3 linked regions of the Homo sapiens genome follow. The protein of the gene in region 3 interacts with the protein of the main gene of each other region in a pairwise test. Each region holds a gene or a part of one and is shown on either strand. Other genes may lie near its edges.

What was found.
Region 1: the proteins of NEGR1 (region 3) and SYNGAP1 interact in binary tests that used the Homo sapiens proteins (3 or more experiments, as listed by UniProt).
Region 2: the proteins of NEGR1 (region 3) and NPC2 interact in binary tests that used the Homo sapiens proteins (3 or more experiments, as listed by UniProt).

Annotation. Positions count from the first base shown.
Region 1 is NC_000006.12:33,444,065-33,447,719, reverse strand, and holds part of SYNGAP1 (ras/Rap GTPase-activating protein SynGAP), read right to left. Parts: intron 3,277-3,655; coding exon 3,103-3,276; intron 1,146-3,102; coding exon 934-1,145; exon of another isoform or gene 922-933; intron 1-921. UniProt on the Homo sapiens protein: Major constituent of the PSD essential for postsynaptic signaling. Inhibitory regulator of the Ras-cAMP pathway.
Region 2 is NC_000014.9:74,483,293-74,486,947, reverse strand, and holds part of NPC2 (NPC intracellular cholesterol transporter 2 isoform 2 precursor), read left to right. Parts: intron 1-511; coding exon 512-619; intron 620-2,360; coding exon 2,361-2,533; intron 2,534-3,655. UniProt on the Homo sapiens protein: Intracellular cholesterol transporter which acts in concert with NPC1 and plays an important role in the egress of cholesterol from the lysosomal compartment.
Region 3 is NC_000001.11:71,589,993-71,593,647, forward strand, and holds part of NEGR1 (neuronal growth regulator 1 precursor), read right to left. Parts: intron 2,977-3,655; coding exon 2,825-2,976; intron 1-2,824. UniProt on the Homo sapiens protein: May be involved in cell-adhesion. May function as a trans-neural growth-promoting factor in regenerative axon sprouting in the mammalian brain.

The sequences.
Region 1 (3,655 bases), on a different chromosome or scaffold from region 3:
GCCGTGATGCAAGACTCCCTGTTCCTCAGGATCATGCTCTCCACCTTCCTCCCAGGAACCCTTACACCTCCCTGCTAAGGCAGCTTTCTGTGCCTCAAAGACTTCTACCATCCAGACACCTCCAGGCCTCCATCGTCCCAATCAGGACAGCAGTGCCCCTTCCCCAGACCTTCCATGGCTGAGGACCTGGCTTCTGCATCCCCCATGTCACCTCACTGTGAAGATCCTCGAGGTGATTTATCATAAAGGATATCAATTAGAGCAGTGGTTTTCAAAAAATATTTCAAGAAGCCCTTTTCTTCTAATTAAATCTTACATAAAATACATTTAGAATGGATCAAAATGGAGGTGGCTCTGGTTGGAGTGCGCCCAGGGTCCCCCCCACCCCGACCCCACCACTCTGAAGATAATTGACCTCTTTGCTGAGGATACCCTCTTTGGAGCCCAGGACTTGCTGGAGCAGCTGAAAACATACACAGGCTAAAAGACCCTTTCTAACAGAACACCTTTCCAAGGCTAGAGAGGGAGGGTCCACCCAGGAAGGGCAGGGCCTACTCTGGCTAGGGAGCCCTGCTTAGGTTTGGAGTGAACATCACAGGTTAAGTTGAGAATAACTAGTGGGGAGCTCTGGCCTAGGGTAAATGCAAATGCAGTGATGGTTGGACAGGAACAGGTACATTTTCCAAGGGCTTCCGAAGCTACTCTATCAGAAGAGAGGTCAGGGTTTGGTAAAGAGATATTTAATGCACTAAGCAGGTTGGGGTTTCTCTCCATCTGGTGATGAGTGAGTGGGTGGCTTCCTGGGGAGGAGAGTGGTGGGCTCTCCTGGTGGGCTCCTGAGTTTGGGGATGGGAGTCAGCGGAGTAGCTCACCCACTTGCTCTCTCCAGCCTCAGGCTCTCCCTCACAACCCCCTCCCCAGGCCGCCCCTCACCTGCCAATGATGCTCTTGATCTGGGAATCCTTCTCTGCCTGCTGCTGCCTTAGCCTCTTCTCACTCTGCTCCAGTCGGGCCTGATACTGCATCAGGATTTTGCTGGTTTGTTCTTCCTGGGACAGCAGCCTCCGCTCATACTCTTCCAGCTTCCGGTTGGACATGTGCAGCCGCTCTTTCAGTGAGTGAATCTCCTCCTCGTACTCCTTCACCTGCCCGCCGGGCACACGACCCCGCACTATGAGGGGCGCCCCACCCCAAGCCCACCACCCAGCCTCCATCCCTGTCTGCCAAGCACAGCCACTGCATGTTGAGGGACATCCAGCTGCCTTCCCCAACCCCTTCCCTGCCTGTGGATCATATCCACACACCTGCTTTTGAGAAGACCCTGCCATGGTGCTGAGGTTCCCTCAAAATGGAGCAAGGTCACAGACTCCCACACCCTGAGGTCTATGTATGGCCCCTCATGAAGACCCACACAGAAACCTACACTCACAAACACACCTTGAGTAACTGTGCTCAGAAATTAAAAATAGGGTGACTCTTCAGCCCTAAGCCAGGCCCCAGAACACATGCTGGAGACATAGGAAGAAAAGGCAATTGACGGGGGAAAGGCAGGTGCTGTCCTCCATGTGACCCTCTCCTTGGCTCTGTCAAGGTGCCAAGGATAGGAGGTCTACAAGTGAATTCTAGGCTGAGAATCTAGGAATTCCAGAGCTGGAAGAGCTCAGAAGAGTCATTTTATCTGCCCTATTGGCTCTAGAGTCTACAGCTGTGCTGTCTAATATGGTAGCCACCAGCCCACATGTAGCTATTTAAAATTTAGGCCAGGCACAGTGGCTCAACACCTGTAATCCCAGCACTTTGGAAGGCTGAGGCAGGTAGATCACTTGAGCTCACAAGTTCTAGACCAGCCTGGGCAACATGGCAAAACCCCGTCTCTACAAAAAAAAAAAAAAAAAAAAAAGAAAAGAAAAAAAACTAGCCAGGCATGGTAGCACGACCCTGTAGTCCTAGCTACTCAGGGGGCTGAGGTGGGAGGATGTCTTGAGCCCAGGAGGCGGAGGTTGCCTCGAGCCATGTTTGCACCACTGCACTCCAGCCTGGGTGACAGAGCAAGACCCTGTCTCAAAAAAATTACAAAATTAAAATTAAATAGATCTAAAAATTCAGTTCCTGAATCACAACTAGACACATGTGAACACTACAGATTACAGAACATTTCATCACTGCAGAAAGTTATATTGGATAGTGCTAGTCTACAGCCTTTCTCAACAAGGTTTCCTCATCTGAAGCACAGAAAAAAAAATGATTCAAAAGACTATTTCCTCATTCTCTGAAGAGGATACATACATATATCACCAACCCTTCTACATGCAGAGGAGAGATGTGAATTAACTTCCTACGGTGGCTGCCTTGGGGCTAATATTAGGGTTTAATTCTCATTAAATTTGCTGGTCAAGCCCATCTGAGTCAGTCCCAACATTTCCTATGCTCAAAGACCACTTCCCCGTGTTAGGATCATATGTTCTTTATATATGACCTAATCCTGCAGCCGCCCTCTTCCTCAGGCCCTAGGAACAACAGCTTCCTCAAGTAACTTTCTGCTAAGTTATCTGTGTTAGCCCCAGAGCTCTTGGTGCCCTTTGCCCTCAGCCTCCACCAAGTGAGGGTCTGGATGGTCTTTTCACACATGACTGATACATACTACTTTACCACATGCATTCCCTGCCCACTGACTGTCACTTATGCCCATGGGACAGTGACTGGGTAGGCCAGACATCACTTGTAATATAGCTGCAACCCCCTCCATCCCCATCCAATTTATTAGCTCCTACTGCCAGTAAAGTAACATTTCCTTTCCTAAGCAGTCACAGGAGCCAGGGCTTATGTTCCTCCTGGGGAAGAACATGGAGGTAAGCCTAAAATAGATGATCCCCAGATAGTCTATGATATATATAACCTACAAAATAGAGTTGAAAGTGACTTTTAACAACTGTGTGTATCTGGTCTCCCCAGATGGACGGAAGGCTTCTCAAGAGGTGATCAGGTCTTTGCCTTTTCTTACCACCATAACTGACCCTGGAGGTTTCCCTTGGAAGTGACTAGAGATCTCCCCTGTGGGTAAAAGGAAACACTGGGGCTTGGAGCTGGTAGAGCCCATCGTACCCTATCCAGCCGGCTCTCATCCATCGATTTTGAGTACTCCTTGAGCTTGTACTCTTCCCGCTCGATGTGGGCACTCTCGATGTCAGCCGACAGGTGAGGCATGTTGGAGACCCAGGCCACTGTCCGCTCAGAGGCTGGCATTGTGGGGTTCAATGTGGATGGTGTCTGAGAATGCTGGGACAAGGCACAGTGAGGGCGAACAGAGAAAGAAAAGGTGGGAAAAAGCAGGGTACATTTAGAGGGCAACAGCACAGCCAAAGGAGACGACAGTCCCAGTCCTATTGCCCTGCTGTAGCCTTTATCACCTCTGAATGCCAGAGATGTGAGTTGAATGCCAGAGAATTTCTCCTGTTGTTCTGATTCAGGATCTGATCTTCATGCCTCCAAGCCCCCAGCTGGCCCTATTCCAGTCACCCCCATTCTACTTATGGATTAATCCCCTCTGGAATGAGAGTGCTAAGAGGGTTCAGTGCCGTATCCTTAGTGCCTGGCATAGCACATGGCACATAGCAGGCCCTCTATACACATTTGTTTAATGGCCAAAAGGAGGCAA
Region 2 (3,655 bases), on a different chromosome or scaffold from region 3:
TCCTGTAGTGAACAACTTTCATCAGATTTACATGCTAATCTATATGCTAGAAAAAGAAAGGGAAAATAGGAATATTTTCATCCAAAGGAAGGTTGAAGCAAACGTCTTCAAGGTTTAAGTTTAAACTGTGACCCTTACCATTAAGAATGCGAGATAAGACTCTAGGAATGTTTGGAATTTCTCTGATTGAAGTTTAATTCCTTTAATATGATCATTTATGGATATGGTCTTGATATTATTTAGTTTGACAAATATTAACTTTCTCTTGATCAAAAAACCAACTAGCTTCTTTATCATCTGAATTAAAGGCTATGATTTTAGCAGCAAGATGAATCAAGATTCTGACTTCTAATTGGGCATTATTCTTAAAGATTCCATCCTGGGAAACAGTCCGAGGAGAATGAGTTGACCCTAAATGGGAGAGCAGAGCACCTTCCCATTAGGTGGTGGGCAGCCTAGCTGGCTTATTTCTCCTCCTATTCTCCTATTCCAATTCATTTTTCTTTTGCAGGTTCTGTGGATGGAGTTATAAAGGAAGTGAATGTGAGCCCATGCCCCACCCAACCCTGCCAGCTGAGCAAAGGACAGTCTTACAGCGTCAATGTCACCTTCACCAGCAGTGCGTAAAAGTGGCTCTTAACTCAAATTCATGTTACAGCATAACCTAAATATCAAGTGTTGGAATAAGCATGGGAATGGAGGGGAGGGGAATTGGCAGTCATGAATTTTATGATTTCTTTTGCACCTCATGCAAAGCTAGGGTTCACTGTGCCCTTGGACACCCTTCTCATGCAGGGTCCATGGCTCCCAGACTCCCTTTAAGCAAACAGGGAGATGTCCATGTGTTCACAGGTTAGAGAAGACAGCTTGGCTTTTCTGTCTTGACCCATATTGCATAGTAGGCTATGATGGGAATGTCAGCTCTGTTTAGCTACAGACTGCAGAGTATTAGTATGGACCCCAATTCTTTAAGCTTTGGAACTCCTCCAAAATGTTGTTTTAAGCAGTAATGCCTTTCAGCTATTAAGTCTACATCCCACCTGAAAATAAAGGTGCAACTAATACTTAACAGCCTCCTTAAGATTTAGGGAACCCACTGGGGACCCAAGAAATAGCCAAGAAATCTGAGCTTTCTTCTCCAATATTCAAGAAATATCATTGGAACTTTTTGCTTTCTTGTACCACATCACTTTGAGATTTTTAAGAATCTAGACAAATGTAAAATCTTTTATTACTAAGCAGGGCATGTTCCTTGAATCTTTTCCTCATTTTCTGTCCTGTGAAACTAGACTAGACAGTCTAATAAGAAACCTCAAAGTTCCTGTCATCTTTTGTTCATAAGCCTAAAGACAGCTCTAAGTACTAGCTCCCTGTTTCCTCTCTGGACTATACCCTGGCCTCTCTATTGTTCCAAACCAAAAAAAAAAGCCTTCTGAACAAGTCATCCCCAACCCAGACAGAAGGAAAGAAACAGAACCAATTTTCTGGGTCTCCAAAATACCCTAATAACTCATAAGTCTGATTGCCCTCATTTTTTAATACCTTTATTCCTCCTGGCCATCTTGTGATGTGGAGGGTAAAGTTTATAAAGAATTGCATGTCTTTCTAATCTTACCCAATTTCTTTTTTTTTTTTTTTTTTTTTTTTTTTTTTGTGACAGAGTCTCGCTCTGTCACCCAGGCTGGAGTGCAGTGGCGCAATCTCAGCACACTGCAACCTCCGCCTCCTGGGCTCAAGCGATTCTCCCGCCTCAGCCTCTTGAGTAGCTGAGATGACAGGCATGCGCCACCACGCCCGGCTAATTTTTGTAGTTTTAGTAGAGACAGGGTTTTTCCATGTTGGCCAGGCTGGTCTCAAACTCCTGACCTCAGATGATCCACCCGCCTCAGCCTCCCAAAGTGCTGGGATTACAGGTGGGAGCTACTGTGATCCAGCCTAATCTTACCCTGCTAAAGGGTTACCTCTTTCACTGTTGTTACAGACCATGACATTTAAGACACACAATATACTTGGACAGAAGCTGATATAAATAGCAAACAGAAAGTTTACTGCCAAAAATCAGTTGCCTTGTTAGATAAGGTTGTTTATCCAGGTATCTCTGATTCTCCTAAGAAACTGTGAAGGGCCATGAAGAGCAAGGTTAAGAGCAAAGAAAACTTCTGCTGATTGTTTTTTTTTTTTTTTTTTTTTTTGCATAATTGTGTTTGGAGTGAATGCTTGCACTGTGCTAGTACCAAGCACCACTATCAAGAGAAATAGACCCTAGGAATGCTGTTGCTTGGGATTATTTCTGAATTTTTGATTTAGAGTTTGAAAATAGGTTATTTTCTTTGCCATCTGATTCTCTTTTTTTCTCTTAGATATTCAGTCTAAAAGCAGCAAGGCCGTGGTGCATGGCATCCTGATGGGCGTCCCAGTTCCCTTTCCCATTCCTGAGCCTGATGGTTGTAAGAGTGGAATTAACTGCCCTATCCAAAAAGACAAGACCTATAGCTACCTGAATAAACTACCAGTGAAAAGCGAATATCCCTCTGTAAGTGATACCATTATTGAGGACACGGGAGGCCTTGGGACTGGATTAGAGTTCTGAGGGCAGTGGGCAAGAAGCAGAGATGGGGGTAAAGGGCCCCTTATCTCTATGATGAAGAAGAAGCCCGAGGGAAAGGAGATAGGTGCGGTGTTAGGCATCAGGAGGTAGGGCAGGTCTTTTTCTCTGTGTCTCTTCATTCTTTCACTATGACCTGATGGTTAGCCTGGGCCTAATGATGCCATTTGTTTTTTAATATACTAAAATTTAATCATACATAAGAACTGTAATTTAATCTGACAGTAAAACACAAGAAGCAATATTAGAGTTGGTTTAGTATATTGTATATTTTAGCTTTGAAAGTCGTAGAAATCAGTTACCCCAGTTTTTTTCCTATAAAAGACCCATTTTTCCAAAGCATTATGCACAATTTCAATTAGAATATAATGACAGAGGATATTCCATAATTTTTAAAATATAAAATGAGGTAATTGATTCAAAAAAGTTATCTACTGCAATATCAATATCATTACAGATATAAAGTATGATGGTTCAACTTTTTAGTGCTTGATAGGGAGGAATCATGATAAAAAGGTCAATATGAAATCATTTGATTATAGTAGCAATATCTAACATTTGAAATGCATCCATGCTCTTTTGTATAATCATATTAGAGTCAAGTATATTTTCACATCTGTTATGTCTTATTTTCCAAGAGATATACACAGAGCAGTTTTTTTTCTCCAGGGAACTTATACAAACCAATATAAGATCTAAATTCTTCACATAATGTATAAAACAGGAGAAGCCTCTTCAAATTTATTTTTTGAAGTCTGGAATGCTGGCACTTTCCAATTAGGCAATAGTTCTTCATTCCTGTAACCTAGCTCAGAGCTGCTGCTGACTATGGGCCTAGAGCAGCAGACATGATTTCTTTTTAGGCTGTTTCTTTTCCACTGGTGTTTTTCTATTTATCTGTCTGACCAGGTCATAAAATATTTCATTAACATTGACCTTTGACTTTGCAGATTATTCTAAAATGGCACAGTTCCATCACTGTCATGCTAAATTCTGGCCCTGTTCTTTGCCAACTACTCACTCATCTTCCAGGTCACATTTATTGCCAAC
Region 3 (3,655 bases):
CTTCAAATGTATTGAATTGTTTCATACTGCCATGTCTTTACATGAGCGGTTCAACACTAGAGTGCTTGCCTCTCTCTTTCTTCCATCACCATTCCCACACCCAGGCTCATCCTAATCACCTTTACCTCAAGGGGCATCTCCTTTATATTTTTCCCTGAGTCCTTGAGACTGACTGAGTTGATCATTCTCTTTTTTGTGTCACTATACTTTGTGCACATGATTGTTGTTGAATGAGCTCCTGCAAAGTTCTGCCCCAGAAAGTGAGATAGTCATTGCTAAGATGATGTTTTGAGTTGTACCTTAGATATAATTCAGATAGTGGTATTGGCTACTCTAGATAAAAGTTCTTTCATGACCCTTGAGACTATAGTAAGAGCACCTTCTCTGCCCCATTATGGTACCACTGACCTTATTGCATTATCGTTGCTTGCTTGACTGTTTCTCACTTCTCACTCATCTGAGAACTCCTTCAGGATGGGGTTCCAGTCCTACTCACCCTTTTCTTTCCAACATCTAGTGCCGTGCTTTGCCGGGTGTAGGCATTGTAGATAAAAGCTTAGAATCTGAAGCCAGATTGTCAGGGTTTAAGGTTTTGCTTTGTCACTAACCATTTGGCTTCAGCCACATTTATATTCTCTAAGTTTCCTTTTCTAGAAGAGGAGAATTACAGAATCTAGCTCTTTGGATTTTGTGAGAATTAAATGAACAAGTTTATATAAAAAATAAGAATAGGGTCTGTTTCAGAGTAAGCTAACAATGTGCTATTTGTAATTACAGTCATATTGCCTTGTATCTGTAGAGGTTACAAGTACAAATTCTACAGCTAAAACTCATTCACTCATTTATTTATTCATTAATCCATCCATTCATTTACTCAATGTTTAATTCATTTATTCACTAAAGATTTACTCCTTGCTTATTAAATAGCAGGTGCTGTGCTTGGTGATATGGGAAATAAAATAACTAATCAGACATAGATCCTGTCTTTTTAAAGAACTTATAATTTGATGGAGAGATGGAATATATATAAAAATAACTATAAGACAAAATAAAAATGCTTAGTGCAGTAAGAGCTTCAGATGAGGTCATACCAGGGGTTCTGAATATATGAACATTTTTTCAAACTCCCAGGGCTATGTTCATAATTACAGACAAGATTTTCACATTTGCCTTTATTAACAAATTAATCAAATTGTATGTACTTAATAGCACCTCAGCATACAGCAAGTCAATGGCAGAGAGAGATGATGAGAGTCTCTTCTGAAGGCACTACGTTTAGAAGCCTTTTCAGCACTATATTATTTCCAGACATTTGTGTTAAGATTGCCAGAGTAAAACAAATGTTTACACAAGTGGCATTTGTTCCTAATTTTTCACATTCATTAATGTTTCAGTTTTGAAAATCAGAATGTAATTTAGAAATTTAAATAGCAAAACGTAATATGTTATTAAGCCTTAAATTTTTCTTTACTTTGCCGTGTTAATTCATTTATTCTTTCAAGTGCTTGAATATTTAAACCATTTAAAATATTAATAATATACCAAAGAAGTATCAATATTTACATTAAGTTGGAATTCACACTGCTTTATAATATTTTCAATGGTTTATATTATTCATAATTTCACTAAATAAATCATCCTCATGGAAGGAACTTAAGCAAGCATATTATACTATAACTATTGCATGGCAAGCAATGTTTTTCTTTCAAATCGAGTGCTAAAGGATATTAGGCTGGGATAATAAAAGATGTAATATAAACTGATATGTTTTATTTCACATCAGCATTCTTAAATTATGGTAATGTAAAGCTCATAAATCATGGAAACTTATTACAGTATATTTTTAAGTTGTAGGAACATCATATATCCCATCCCCATTTCTGCAAAACAGAAATGATATTTATGATGAACTATACAATATTTGCATTTTTCAGAGATAGCTTACTATAACAAGATCGTAAGACAAATATACATTTGTCAAGTTACCATAAAATATTAACTCTAAGAGATAAGGATAATTCAGATAACTTTGTGGCACTGAAAAGACAGTATACTCTCTCTAGTCTTCTTTGAACATTTTGAGAAACATTTGATTTCAAAATTAAGAATATTTTGTGGCTGCAACAATTTGTTGGTTACTCAGCTTCTAAACAGCAGTAAAATTAATTATAGGAGGAAACATTCATGGAGGTTTCTAGCCTTTTACCCGATCCTTGTGTTTGTGCTTCTTTATTAATTTTTAGTCCTTAGGAAGTAAGATACATTAGAAATGTAGTATTTATTTGAATAAAATCTTAAGTTTTATTTTAAAATACAATTTTGAGTAAAAATATTATCTATATGGATAAAATATTTTGTCCATGATCATTTACTTACTGTTTCATTTTATGTATGGCTTGTGAAATTCTGGCTACCCCAAGATGAATGTTTTATGAAAACCAACCAAGAGTAAATTCAAGCCATGTTAATCTATACTTCAAGAATATGCAATACATTTAAAAAACAACAAAATCTCACCAAATCTACTGACTTCAGCCAAAAGACACTTTTTCAGTTAGCCCTATTATTTATGTATTTTTTCCTTTCTCAGCTCTAACATATTTTTTTAAACACATGTCGACTTCTACAGGGATTATAAAATCCTTGGACAACTATATGATTTGGGAGCAAAGTTTCCATGTGTAAGGATTGCGTGATGTATAAGGAATGTGTCACATCAGGTTGAGTTTTAAAATGAACGTACTCCATTCTTAGGTTTTATCTCTACAGATGGATAGGGGCCCAGAGGCCCCTGGAAGCATTTTGGTACCATTGCATTACTTACGGTTAAGAGGCAGGCTCGCATTGGTTGTGCCTAGCTTGTTGGCAGCCACACAGGTATAATTGCCGAAGTGCTCCTGTGTCACGTTGGTAACAGTGAGAATGGATCTTGTGCTAAAATTTTGAATAATAATTCCTTGTTGGCCATTGAAGAGCCTAGAAGACAAAATAAGCTCTAGGTAAATATGTATTGTGAATACCAGTTTCATTTTTTTATCTTAGCTGGGGTTGTCATGGCAACCCATAGACAATTCAACTACGCTGACGTTAGCATATAACGTGATAATGGTGCAATTTACATTTCACTTACATTAGTAGATTTGGGGGAGGTGAGGTTGCATGTCAGCTGTAGATTGTTCCTGTGGGATTATTTGTGCTATATAACAAACTGAGCTTGGATAGCTACATGTCCTATTTAGGCACTGTTACATATTTTAGAAAATGAAACATACCATACCAATAATATCTCATCTATTAAAGTCAGGAAGGAGTTTAAGGGAAATAAATATAAAGATTCCACGGAAAGTACAAACTGATGGTTTCTAGGTAAGCTGGCGAGAGTATGTCTGGGTCATTTCAGACATTATTAAATAACTCCCTTGAAAGTTAACCCTACAACTGTGATAGGATAGTTCTGAGTCCAGAGTCAACACCACTTTACTCTTGTACAACCCAGACAGATAACTTCCATTAAACCTAAAAAGAGACAGTCATATAGTATTGGAGATAGCATTTAAAGTTGAGTCCCATCACTGTCACATTTTAGGAATGTGCCATGGAAAGACTTTAAAACTCTCTGGACTTCAGCATGGGATTCAGCTATACCCAAATTCAA